Regions from separate parts of the Homo sapiens genome. Here region 2 is linked to region 1. The links come from fine-mapping of genetic effects on gene expression. A gene starts in region 1. The other region holds a variant in brackets. All regions are shown on one strand. Distances are from middle to middle. Region 1 holds the start of ALDH9A1 (aldehyde dehydrogenase 9 family member A1). Region 2 has its middle 14 kb from the start of MGST3.

Region 1 (5,378 bases):
AAAAATAACTCATGGGTACTAGGCTTAATACCTGGGTAATGAAATAATCTATACAACACACCCCCATGACACAAGTTTACCTATGTAACAAATCTTTACATGTACCCCTGAACCTAAAAGTTAAAAATAATAATTTAATAATAAAAGCACAGATAGGTAAGAGGAACAGCTAGATATTTAAAAGGTAGATATTTTGGAGGAGATCTGTTTTCTTTGGGGAAGGGTCTTACTCTGTTGCCCAGGCTGGAGCAGTGGTGCCATGATCGCTCACTCCAGTCTTGAACTCCTGGCCTCAAGCAATCCTCCACCTCAGTCTCTTGAGTAGTCAGGACTACACGCTTGTGCCACCATGCTCGGCTAATTTTTAAAAATATTTTGTAGAGACAGAGTCTCACTATGTTGCCCAGGCTGGTCTTGAACTCCTGGCCTCAAGCGATCCTCCTGCCACGGTCTCCCAAAGTGTTGAGATTACAGGTGTGAGTCCTGTGCCTGGCCAGAGGTTTGTCAGTCTTATCATCTATGAATTAATTCAATAGACATCACGACCACATTTCCAAAACAAACATCAGGAATTATGATGTGACAAGTCAAAATGCATTGGTTGGGGACAGAATCTTTTAAATAGAAATTGTCCCATAAAATTTGAGACGTATAGTTTCTGTACCTAAATGACCATTCAGTGATCTTGGAAATCTATAGTGCTGCTCGTCACCAACTCCTGATATGTTTCAATTCTGTTTGCAATGGACAATAATAAAATAATATGTGAGTGTGGCCTCAGGTATTCTGAGTTTGGGCACTGCTGTTTCCATCTGAGGACCAAGACCTACACATCTCAGTAGCACTGAAAAAGTGAACAAACTGGTATAGAGTGCCAGAAAACTTGATCAGAATACATTATATATACTCTAAACCTGAAAACCACACTCCCTAATATTGCGCTGGTGAGCTGGCAGGTAAAGGAAAAAACATTGAGAAAGACAGCAGCCCCCAGAAGAGAAACAATCCTAAAAGAAATGTCCAAATTGCCAATTACTTTCTGTTTGTCAAAGTCTCTACTGGAGGTGCATGGAAGTTTGGTGAGAAGAATGAACCTTTGTGCAAGATCCCTCAGCTGACAGACCTGTGAGTGCCTCTGGGTGGCTGCTTTGTCTTACAGAAGGCATTTTGTTTCCTGACACTTTTTCCTGTGGCCTTTGCTCTTCGTATTCTGTATGTTAGGCTTCTGTTTCTATCAATATTTGTCATTAATAGCATTTACATTGCTCCTTCAGAATTTATTTATTTTGAGACAGGGTCTCGCTCTGTTGCCCAGGCCTGAGTGCAGTGGCACGATTATAGCTCACTGCAAGCTTGGACCCCCGGGGCTCAGGGGATCCTCCCACCTTAGCCGCCCAAGTACCTGGGGCCACAGGCGTGTGCCACCACACCTGGATAATTTTTTTTTTTTCTGAGTTTCACTCTTGTCACCCAGACTGGAGTGCAATGGCATAGTCTCGGCTCACTGCAACCCGTCTCCCGGGTTCAAGCGATTTTCCCACCTCAGCCTCCCAAGTAGCTGGGATTACAGGCGCCCGCCACCACACCCAGCTAATTTTTGTATTTTTAGTAGAGACGGGGTTTTACCATTTTGGTCAGGCTGGTCTCGAACTCCTGACCTCAGGTGATCTGCCCGCCTTGGCCTCCCAAAGTGCTAGGATTACAGGCGTGAGCCACCGCGCCCGGCCCAATTTTTATTATTTTTATTTTATTTTTTTATAGACACGGGATCTCTCTCTGTTGCCCGCAAACTCCTGGGCTCAAGCGATCCTCCAGCCTTGGTGAGAGCCACAGCGCCCAGTCTCTCTTTAAGAATTTAAAAAGCAGTTTCAGATCACAATATCATCTATCTCGTTCACAGTCCCCTTGCTTTTTACTGTCACCCTTTAAAAAGCATTATACAATTACAGAAACGGTGGTTTAGCAGTGAAGTAACCACCAAAGACTCTTGGCACTCCAATCCTCTGCCTTCTTCAGGCGATAGGATTAAGAATGGGATCCTAGGATGCTTACATGCAATGATGAACCCGAAAACACTTGCAAAGTGCTACGCAAATATTGATCACGAAGAAGGAAGTCCTCTTCCCGCCTGGAGACTGTGTGGGGTATGGCGGGGTGGTGGGGAGAATGTGGTGTCTTGCTCCACCCTCCTGGCGAGGGGAGGGCCTGGCCTGGACCGCAGAGGAATCGAGTGACTGCCCCTAAAATCTCCTAGAACCGATCCCGCGGCCCCGCCCCTCCCGCGGCCCCGCCCCTCCCGCGGCCCGTCAGCCTCTGCCGCGGAGCTGCGTCCGCCACTCATGTTTCTCCGAGCAGGCCTGGCCGCGCTCTCCCCGCTTCTTCGCAGTCTTCGGCCCTCTCCTGTCGCCGCCATGAGCACTGGCACCTTCGTCGTGTCGCAGCCGCTCAATTACCGCGGCGGGGCCCGCGTGGAGCCGGCGGACGCCTCCGGTACCGAGAAAGCTTTCGAGCCAGCAACCGGTAACTGCAACGAGCCGGGGAGGCTGGGGCGCCCTGGGGCCGGATGCGCGGATTTCCCGGCCAGCCCCCGTTTCCTGTGTTCTGCAGCGTTGACTTGAGCACAAGACAGTGACAGTGGAGAGTCTAAGGTTGTGTGTGTAGGCAACTAGCGATTCTGGGGCAACGCGAGTGCCTCCGGGCAGGGATGGGTAGGGAGGAAAAGCAAAGCTGATGAGTTGCGTGGTAGGATCGTGAGTTGTTTTACCCGGGCCAGAACAGAGTTCGCAAAGTACTGGTGGGGGAAGTCGTGCCTCTGTTAACTTCCTTTTTTGTTTGTTTTGTTTGTTTGTTTGTTTTTTGTTTGTTTTGAGACAGGGTCTCACTCTGTCGCCCAGGCTGGAGTGCAGGGGCACCATCTCAGAGCTCACTGCGCCCTCTACCTTACGGGCTCAAGTGCTTCTCCCGCCTCAGCCTCCCTGGTAGCTGGGATTACAGGCTCCCACCACCATGTCCGGCTAATTTTTGTATTTTTAGTAGAGACGGGTTTTCAGCATGTTACTCAGGCTGGTCTCGAACTCCTGAGCTTAGGTGATCCTCCCGCCTCAGCCTCCCAAAGTGCTGGGATTACAGCCGTGAGCCACCAAGCCCAGCCAACTGTTCCCCCTTTTAAAACCAGGACTGATGTATTATTGTCTTCAAATGTGTGCATAGGAGAGGAATTCTAAAAGAACGGGGCGGGGTTGTGGGGAAGATAATCATTTGTGCTGGGAATGAAGGAACGCTCACAGATAGTTTCTAATGACTACGAATGAGGACTTTGTCTCCACATTCTAATATTAAAATATTTCTGCACATTAATCAGAATTGGGAAAGGAAAAAACCCCACCTTTATTCAGTACTTTCTTCCCCAGCTTTATTGAAGTATAATTAACAAATAAAAATTGTATATACTTAAGGTGTAAAACGTGTTGTAATGTATGTATACCTTGCAAAATGGTTACCACGGTCAATCTAATTATCCATTGCTTCTGCATAGTTAATGGCTTTTTTTGGATAGTGAAATATTTAAGATCTATTCTTTTAGCAAATTTCAAGTATATGATGCAGTATTGGTAACCATAGTCACCATGGTCTACGTGAGCTCTCCACAATTTATTCATCTTGCTGAAATAAAACTTTTTAATCCAGTGCTTAATGTGTGCTAAGCACTGTGCTAGGCACTGGATTTACTCTGGGAACTCTGAAGGTCACAGAGATAAGGAAGAAGGGGCTTTTTGTTTTGGTTTTGTGTTGTGTTTATTTTGCTGGGTTTTATGGAATATATGTGGGGAGAAAAATGTAAATATTTTGTGTAAAATGTAGCCAGAGCAATAAAACTGATTTGCAGGGGACTGGAGAATTTAGTATTTGACCATCCACACTAAACCACAGAGCAGTGACTTGGCAGAGCCAGAAGGCATTATCACATCTCTTCTTTATATAGGAGGAAACAGCTTCTCTACCCCGACTTAATCCTGATACAAAAGAAAGAAAAATTGCTCTTTGCTTTAATTGCCTACAGTGTGTGTGATCCTCAGCCACCGCCTTTACCAGCTGGCTATTCAAGTTTGTAACAGAAATTGCAGATTTGTGAAATCTCCCTGGAAAGAGTCCCAGGAGTTCTTGTGAAGAGGATTTGCTGAGTTGGCAAACTTAAAGAATTCTTGTTGGTAGAGGCAGTACAGTCCTTGGGCTATGGGCCTAGAAAAACTGATTGTTTCATAATTTGCACCAGAATAGGGAGAGGGAATAAAGGTGGAATAAGAAAAGGAAATCTGGGAATTTTTGAGAAAAAAAAAATGTTCCTTTAGGGTTGCCTTATCCTGATATTACTGCTTATTAACTATATTTATCAAGTATCAAGTAGTATGATATAACCTACATAGAATATAGACAAGGGATTTACAGTCAGAGTTTATAACCCAATAGACTGATTACTTTTGACTTTCATTTTACAAGACCCCTGAGATTCTGAGATAATGTTTAGGAGTGTTGCAAAACTTAATCAGAAGTTAATGTTAGTAAACTCAACTGTAAAATAGTAGAGGGCAGGGGTTCTTAACTCTAAATCCTTGATGAGTTTAGGGCAGGGGACATGACATTCCTGTAATTCTGTTATATGTTTAAGTAGATTTTTCTGGAGAGAGGTCTGCAACTTTTATCAGACTCCTAATGTCAATGACCGCAAAATACAGTTAAGAACTGCTAGGCCGGGTGTGGTGGCTCATGGCTGTAATCCCAGCACTTGGGGAGGCAGAGGTGGGTGAATCACTTGAGGTCAGGAATGTAAGACCAGCCTGGCCAACATGATGAAATCCCGTCTCTACTAAAAATACAAAAATTAGCTGTGTGTGGTGGCAGGCGCCTGTAATCCCAGCTACTCGGGAGGCTGAGGCAGGAGAATTGCTGGAACCCAGGAGGCAAAAGTTGCAGTGAGTCAAGATCGTGCCATTGCACTCCAGCCTGGGTAACAAGAGCGAGACTCCGTCTTAAAAAACAAAAAAACAAAACAAAAAAACCTGCTAGTATAGAGATGGTCACTAAATCAAACCATACATAAAAACAAGAAGTTACGGTAGCCCACGCCTGTAATTCCGGCACTTCGGGAGGCTGAGGCGGGTGGGTCACAAGGTCAGGAGATCAAGACCATCCTGGTCAACATGGTGAAACCCGGTCTCTACTAAAAAATACAAAAAATTAGCTGGGCGTAGTGGCGTGCACTGGTAGTCCCAGCTACTCAGGAGGCTGAGGCAGGGGAATCGCTTGAACTCAGGAGGCAGAGGTTGCAGTGAGCCGAGATCGCGCCACTGCACTCCAGCCTGGGTGACAGAGCAAGACTC
Region 2 (5,378 bases), 81 kb after region 1:
CTTACTTATTCCACATTTTCTGTCCTCTCCCTGCATTAGGATATATGAAGGCCAGGGGTTTTGTTTTGGTCACTGCTGTATCTTCAGCTCCTGGGACACTGCTTGGCACATAGTGAGCACTTGAATACTTGAAGAAATAAAGAGAGAGAGAGACAGAGAGAGAGAGAGAGAAAGGAAGGAAGGAATGAAGGGAGGGAAGGAGGGAGGGAAAGAGAGAGACAGAGGCAGGGAGAGAGGGAAAGAGGGAAGGAGGGAGGAAGGGAAGGAAGGAAGGAAGGAAGGAAAAAAGGAAGAAAGGAAAGAGAATACATTGATTTTTTAGCTGTCAGGTAGGAATAATCAATTTTTAAATCCATTCTTCAGAGGCAGAGTCTCACAGACCTGAAGTATCTGTATAAAAATTACACGAATTCTTTTATCTGCTTCAGTTTTTACCCCAGGACACACTTGGGCCACAGAGCAGCTGGACCTTCTTGCCTTCTAATAATAAATACAGTCTCTCCATATGGGCTTTTCTTATGCAATCCTGCCTCTCCTTATTAGGTCCTAAAACTGGGGGTTTCTTTCTTTCTTTTATTTTTTTGAATTATTGGCTCTTTTTATCTTTTTTTTTTATTATACTTTAAGTTTTAGGGTACATGTGCACAACATGCAGGTTTGTTACATATGTATACATGTGCCATGTTGGTGTGCTGCACCCATTAACTCGTCATTTAACATTAGGTATATCTCCTAATGCTATCCTTCCCCCCTCCCCCCACCCCACAACAGGCCCCGGTGTGTGATGTTCCCCTTCCTGTGTCCATGTGTTCTCATTGTTCAATTCCCACCTGTGAGTGAGAACATGTGGTGTTTGGTTTTTTAACCTTGCGATAGTTTGCTGAGAATGATGGTTTCCAGCTTCATCCATGTCCCTACAAAGGACATGAACTCATCATTTGTTATGGCTGCATAGTATTCCATGGTGTATATGTGCCACATTTTCTTAATCCAGTCTATCATTGTTGGGCATTTAGGTTGGTTCCAAGTCTTTACTATTGTGAATAGTGCCGCAATAAACATACGTGTGCATGTGTCTTTATAGCAGCATGCTTTATAATCCTTTGGGTATATACCCAGTAATGAGATGGCTGGGTCAAATGGTATTTCTAGTTCTAGATCCCTGAGGAATCGCCACACTGACTTCCACAATGGTTGAACTAGTTTACAGTCCCACCAACAGTGTAAAAGTGTTCCTATTTCTCCACATCCTCTCCAGCACCAGTTGTTTCCTGACTTTTTAATGATCGCCATTCTAACTGGTGTGAGATGGTATCTCGTTGTGGTTTTGATTTGCATTTCTCTGATGGCCGGTGATGATAAGCATTTTTTCATGTGTCTTTTGGCTGCATAAATGTCTTCTTTTCAGAAGTGTCTGTTCATATCCTTCGCCCACTTTTTGATGGGGTTGTTTGTTTTTTTCTTGTATCTTTTTGTCTTTTAAAGGTAATTTTATAGGTGAAATGGTTTCAAATTCAAAAATTATAAAAGTGAAAAGTCTCTATCTTTGCTTGTCCAGCCACCTAGAAAAAAATACCTTGGAAAAAAACAAATATTATCGTTCAAGACTCTTGTGAGTCTTCCCAAAGATGCTCTATGCAGAGACTGTACTAGCAAATACATATGTGATGTGTGTGTATGCCCCTGTTTTTCTTTCATAAAAAATTATAGCATAATAGGATGTGAGAATGGGAAGATTTATGTCTCAGTTTTGACTGAGGTGCCAGAATTCCAGGTTCCAAATACTCTCATGTTTCCCAAGGAGATGGCAGGTGTGTGTTGTAGTACTTGGAAAAAGGGTTTTTGAAAACGGGTATTGCAACCCTTGAGCCTTTGCCACGTGAGGATATAAAAGAGGTTGGAAAGCCCAAGGTGGAATTAGAGATTGATGAGGAGGAAGCTGTTGACTTGAACTTTGAGCTCCATACCCCATACCCACAGGGAAGCAGGATTTCCCTCACTTTCAGCCCAGGGCTGAAGTGGCTTGTCCATTAAGGTGATTTTGCCTCACAGGGGACATTTGGCAATGTCTGGAGACATTTTGGGTTGTCCCAGCTCGGGGGCTGCTGCTGGCATCTATTGGCTAGTGGCCAGAAATCCTGCTTGTCTTAGTCTGTTTAGGCTGCTGCAACAAAATATCTTGAAATGGGTAATTTCTAAAAACCAGAAATTTACTGCTCACAGTTCTGGAGGCTGGAAAGTCCAAGATCAAGGTGCTGGCAGGTTTGCTGTCTGTTGAGGACTCCTCTGTGCTTCAGAGTTGATGCCTTGCTGCTGCATTCTTATGTGGTGGAAGGGACAAGCATGCTCCCTCAAGCCTCTTTTATAAGGGCATGAATCCCATTCACAAGGGTAGAGCCCTCATGACCTAATCACTTCCCAAAAACCCCACCTCTTAGTACTATACCTTGGGTATTAGGTTCCAACATACGAATTTTGGGAGGACACCAACATTCAGAACACAGTGCTGCTAAACATCCTCAAATGCATATGATAGTCCCCTGCAATAACAAAATACATGCCCCAAATGTCAATATCATTGAGGCTGAGAAACACTGGCCTAAGGAAAGGGGCTTCTTTAGTCCCTCTGTGAACTGGTTAAATGTCTTTTGCAGTTGGTGGATGCAGGGGACCCATGTTTAGAGGCTGGGGCTGGCTCTCTGTGCTAGTGGAGGGGAGAGGCAAAAGTGCTGAATGGGGAGTCATCTCCATCTCCTGATAGAGGATGCTGAACAATTGCTGTGGCCCAGATAAGGTTGGTGAGTGAGAGAG[T/AGTGTGTGT]GTGTGTGTGTGTGTGTGTGTGTGCAGACGCGCGCACGCGTGAGAAAGAGAGAGAAAGAGAAAGAACAGAGAGAGATTGAGGGAGCACTGCATGGAGAGGTGAGCTCAGGTGAAAGAGACTGGAGGGAAGCTCTGGCAGAAGGGAGCAGTCAGGAGTACTAACCTACACCAAGGGAGACACAGGCAAAGGTGTCTCCAGTTGGGGGAAGGTGTGGTGCATAGCGGGGTGCCTCGAAAGAACTTCTCGAAGTACTTCAGCAGAGAATGAGTCTGCATCAAATACCTGGAAAGCCCAGAGAGCTGACAACAGTTCTCAACATTATTAAGCAAGTTAGAGCCTGGCTGACACTCCAGTGGCACACAGAGAATAAAATCCATAGCTCACAAGATCCTACTGGATTTGACCACTGCTGGCCTCTCTAACTTCATCTTCCCTTTATTATTTTGCTCTGGCCACAGTGGATCTCAGGCTGATCCTTGAACACACCAAACTTGCTCTGACCTCAGGGTCTTCATGATTGCTTTTTCTACCTTGCATCTCTGTTGCCTCTCTCCATGCAAGTCTCTGCCCAAATGCCACCATCTCAGAAAGGCCTTTCCTGATCAGTCCTTCTAAAATAGGCAAGCAATTGGTCACTATCTCCTTCCCTTGCTTTATTTCTCTTCAGACCACTTACTATCTAATCTTTTGTTATAATGTATTCACTTACTGTGTCACTCCTCCATTATAAAGTAATATCCCTCCAGGAAAAAAACTTCACCTTTATTTTCCCAGGGCCTATGGCAAATTTAACATCTGATAAGTGTCAAATAAATATTTGTTTAATAAAGGAAAGAACAAGTATCTGAGCAAGCTGCTGTGATTTGCCAAGCTGTTTGATTTGGCTTCTCCTTTGTGAATGAGTGGAGTCTTAGCATCACTTCTGCCTCCTCTGATGCTGAGCTGTTTTGCAACAGCTGAGCTGTTTGCTCAGGTAGTGTTATGAGCACACCTTATGTCCAATGTCTCCTCAGCAAAGATCTGCTCGCCTCAGCTCTGACTCTGCCCATTCACTGACATTCTCCTGTCAAATTCCCTGGTCCCTGAGCAAAAGACATGGAGGGCAAGGGAATGGTATGGCAGGGCCAAACACTTCACACAGCTTTTCAGATAAAAAGCTCTCTAGGACCTCCCTGTTTAAGCACTTCAGGTTAAAAGTTGTAAATTAAAAGAGAACAATGACTGCCTGTGCTCTATTATTTTTCTAAGTCAAGTATGGCTGTGCTTTATTTATATTCTAATTTAAGAGATATATCTTTTCACCTTTTTTTTTTTTTAGACAGAGTATCACTCTGTCCCCCAGGCTGGAGTGCAGTGGCACAATCTTGGCTCACTGCAACCTCTGACTCCCGGGTTCAAGTGATTCTTGTGCTTTAGCCTGGATCCTCACCTCTAACCTTATATAAAAACCAACTCAAGATGGATCAAAGACTTAAAATCTAAGACCTGAAACCATAAAGATTCTAGGAGATAACATCTGAAAAACCCTTCTAGACATTGGCTTAGGCAAAGACTTCATGACCAAGAACCCAAAAGCAATGCAACTAAAACAAAGATAAATAGATGGAACTTAATTAAACGAAAAAGCTTCTGCATAGAAAAAAAAAATCAGCAGAGTAAACAGACAACCCAAGAGTAGGAGAAAATTTTCACGATTTATTCATCTGACAGAGGACTAATATCTAGAATCTACAAGAAATTCAAACAAATTAGCAAGAAAAAAAAATTTCTTCCAAAAGTGGGCTAAAAGACATGAATAGATAATTCTCAAAATAGTTATATACAAATTTATTTTATATACAAATGGCCAAAAACATGAAAAAATGCTCACCATCATTAATTATCAGAAAAATGCAAATCAAAGCCACAATGCGATATTATCTTACTCCTGCAAGAATGGCCATAATTTAAAAAATAAAAAAAAATAGATGTTAGTGTGGATGTAGTGAAAAGGCAACACTTTTACGCTACTGGTGGGAATGTAAACTAGTACAACCACTATGGAAAACAGTGTGGAGTTTTTTTAAAGAATTAAAAGTAGATCTATTGTTTGATCCAGCAATCCCACTACTGAGTATCTACCAAGAGGAATAGAAGTCATATTATGAAAAAGACACTTGAACATGCATGTTTATAGCAGCACAATTCACAATTGCAAAAATATGAAACCAGCCCAAATGCCCATCAATCAACAAGTGAATAAAGAAAATGTGGTATATATATACCATGGAATACTACTCAGCCATAAAAAGGAAAAAAATAATGGCATTCGCAGCAACCTGGATGGAGTTGCAGACTGTTAATTCTAAGTGAAGTAACTCAGAAATGGAAAACCAAACATCGTATGTTCTCACTTATAAGCAGGAACTAAGCTAGTAGGCCAAAAACGCATAAGAATAATGTAATACAATGGACTTTGGGGACTTGAGGGGAAGCATAGGAGGGGGGTGAGGGATAAAAGATTACACATTGGGTACAGTGTACACTGCTCAGGTGATGGGTGCACTAAAATCCCAGAAATCATCAC

The links.
Region 2: its variant is fine-mapped to the expression of ALDH9A1 in whole blood (INTERVAL, PIP above 0.99).

Annotation. Positions count from the first base shown.
Region 1 is chr1:165,695,520-165,700,897 of GRCh38, reverse strand. ALDH9A1 (aldehyde dehydrogenase 9 family member A1) reads left to right here and starts at 2,336. Exons shown (of 11, transcript NM_000696.4): 1 at 2,336-2,520. The coding sequence starts at 2,340. It also overlaps the pseudogene CA14P1. RefSeq lists enhancers at 1,901-2,080, 1,945-2,527, 2,371-2,600 and a silencer at 2,151-2,340.
Region 2 is chr1:165,614,796-165,620,173 of GRCh38, reverse strand. No RefSeq gene overlaps it. Among named protein-coding and RNA genes, the nearest start is that of MGST3, 14 kb to the left of the region's middle. The variant T/AGTGTGTGT (reference allele first, on the strand shown) is at 2,812.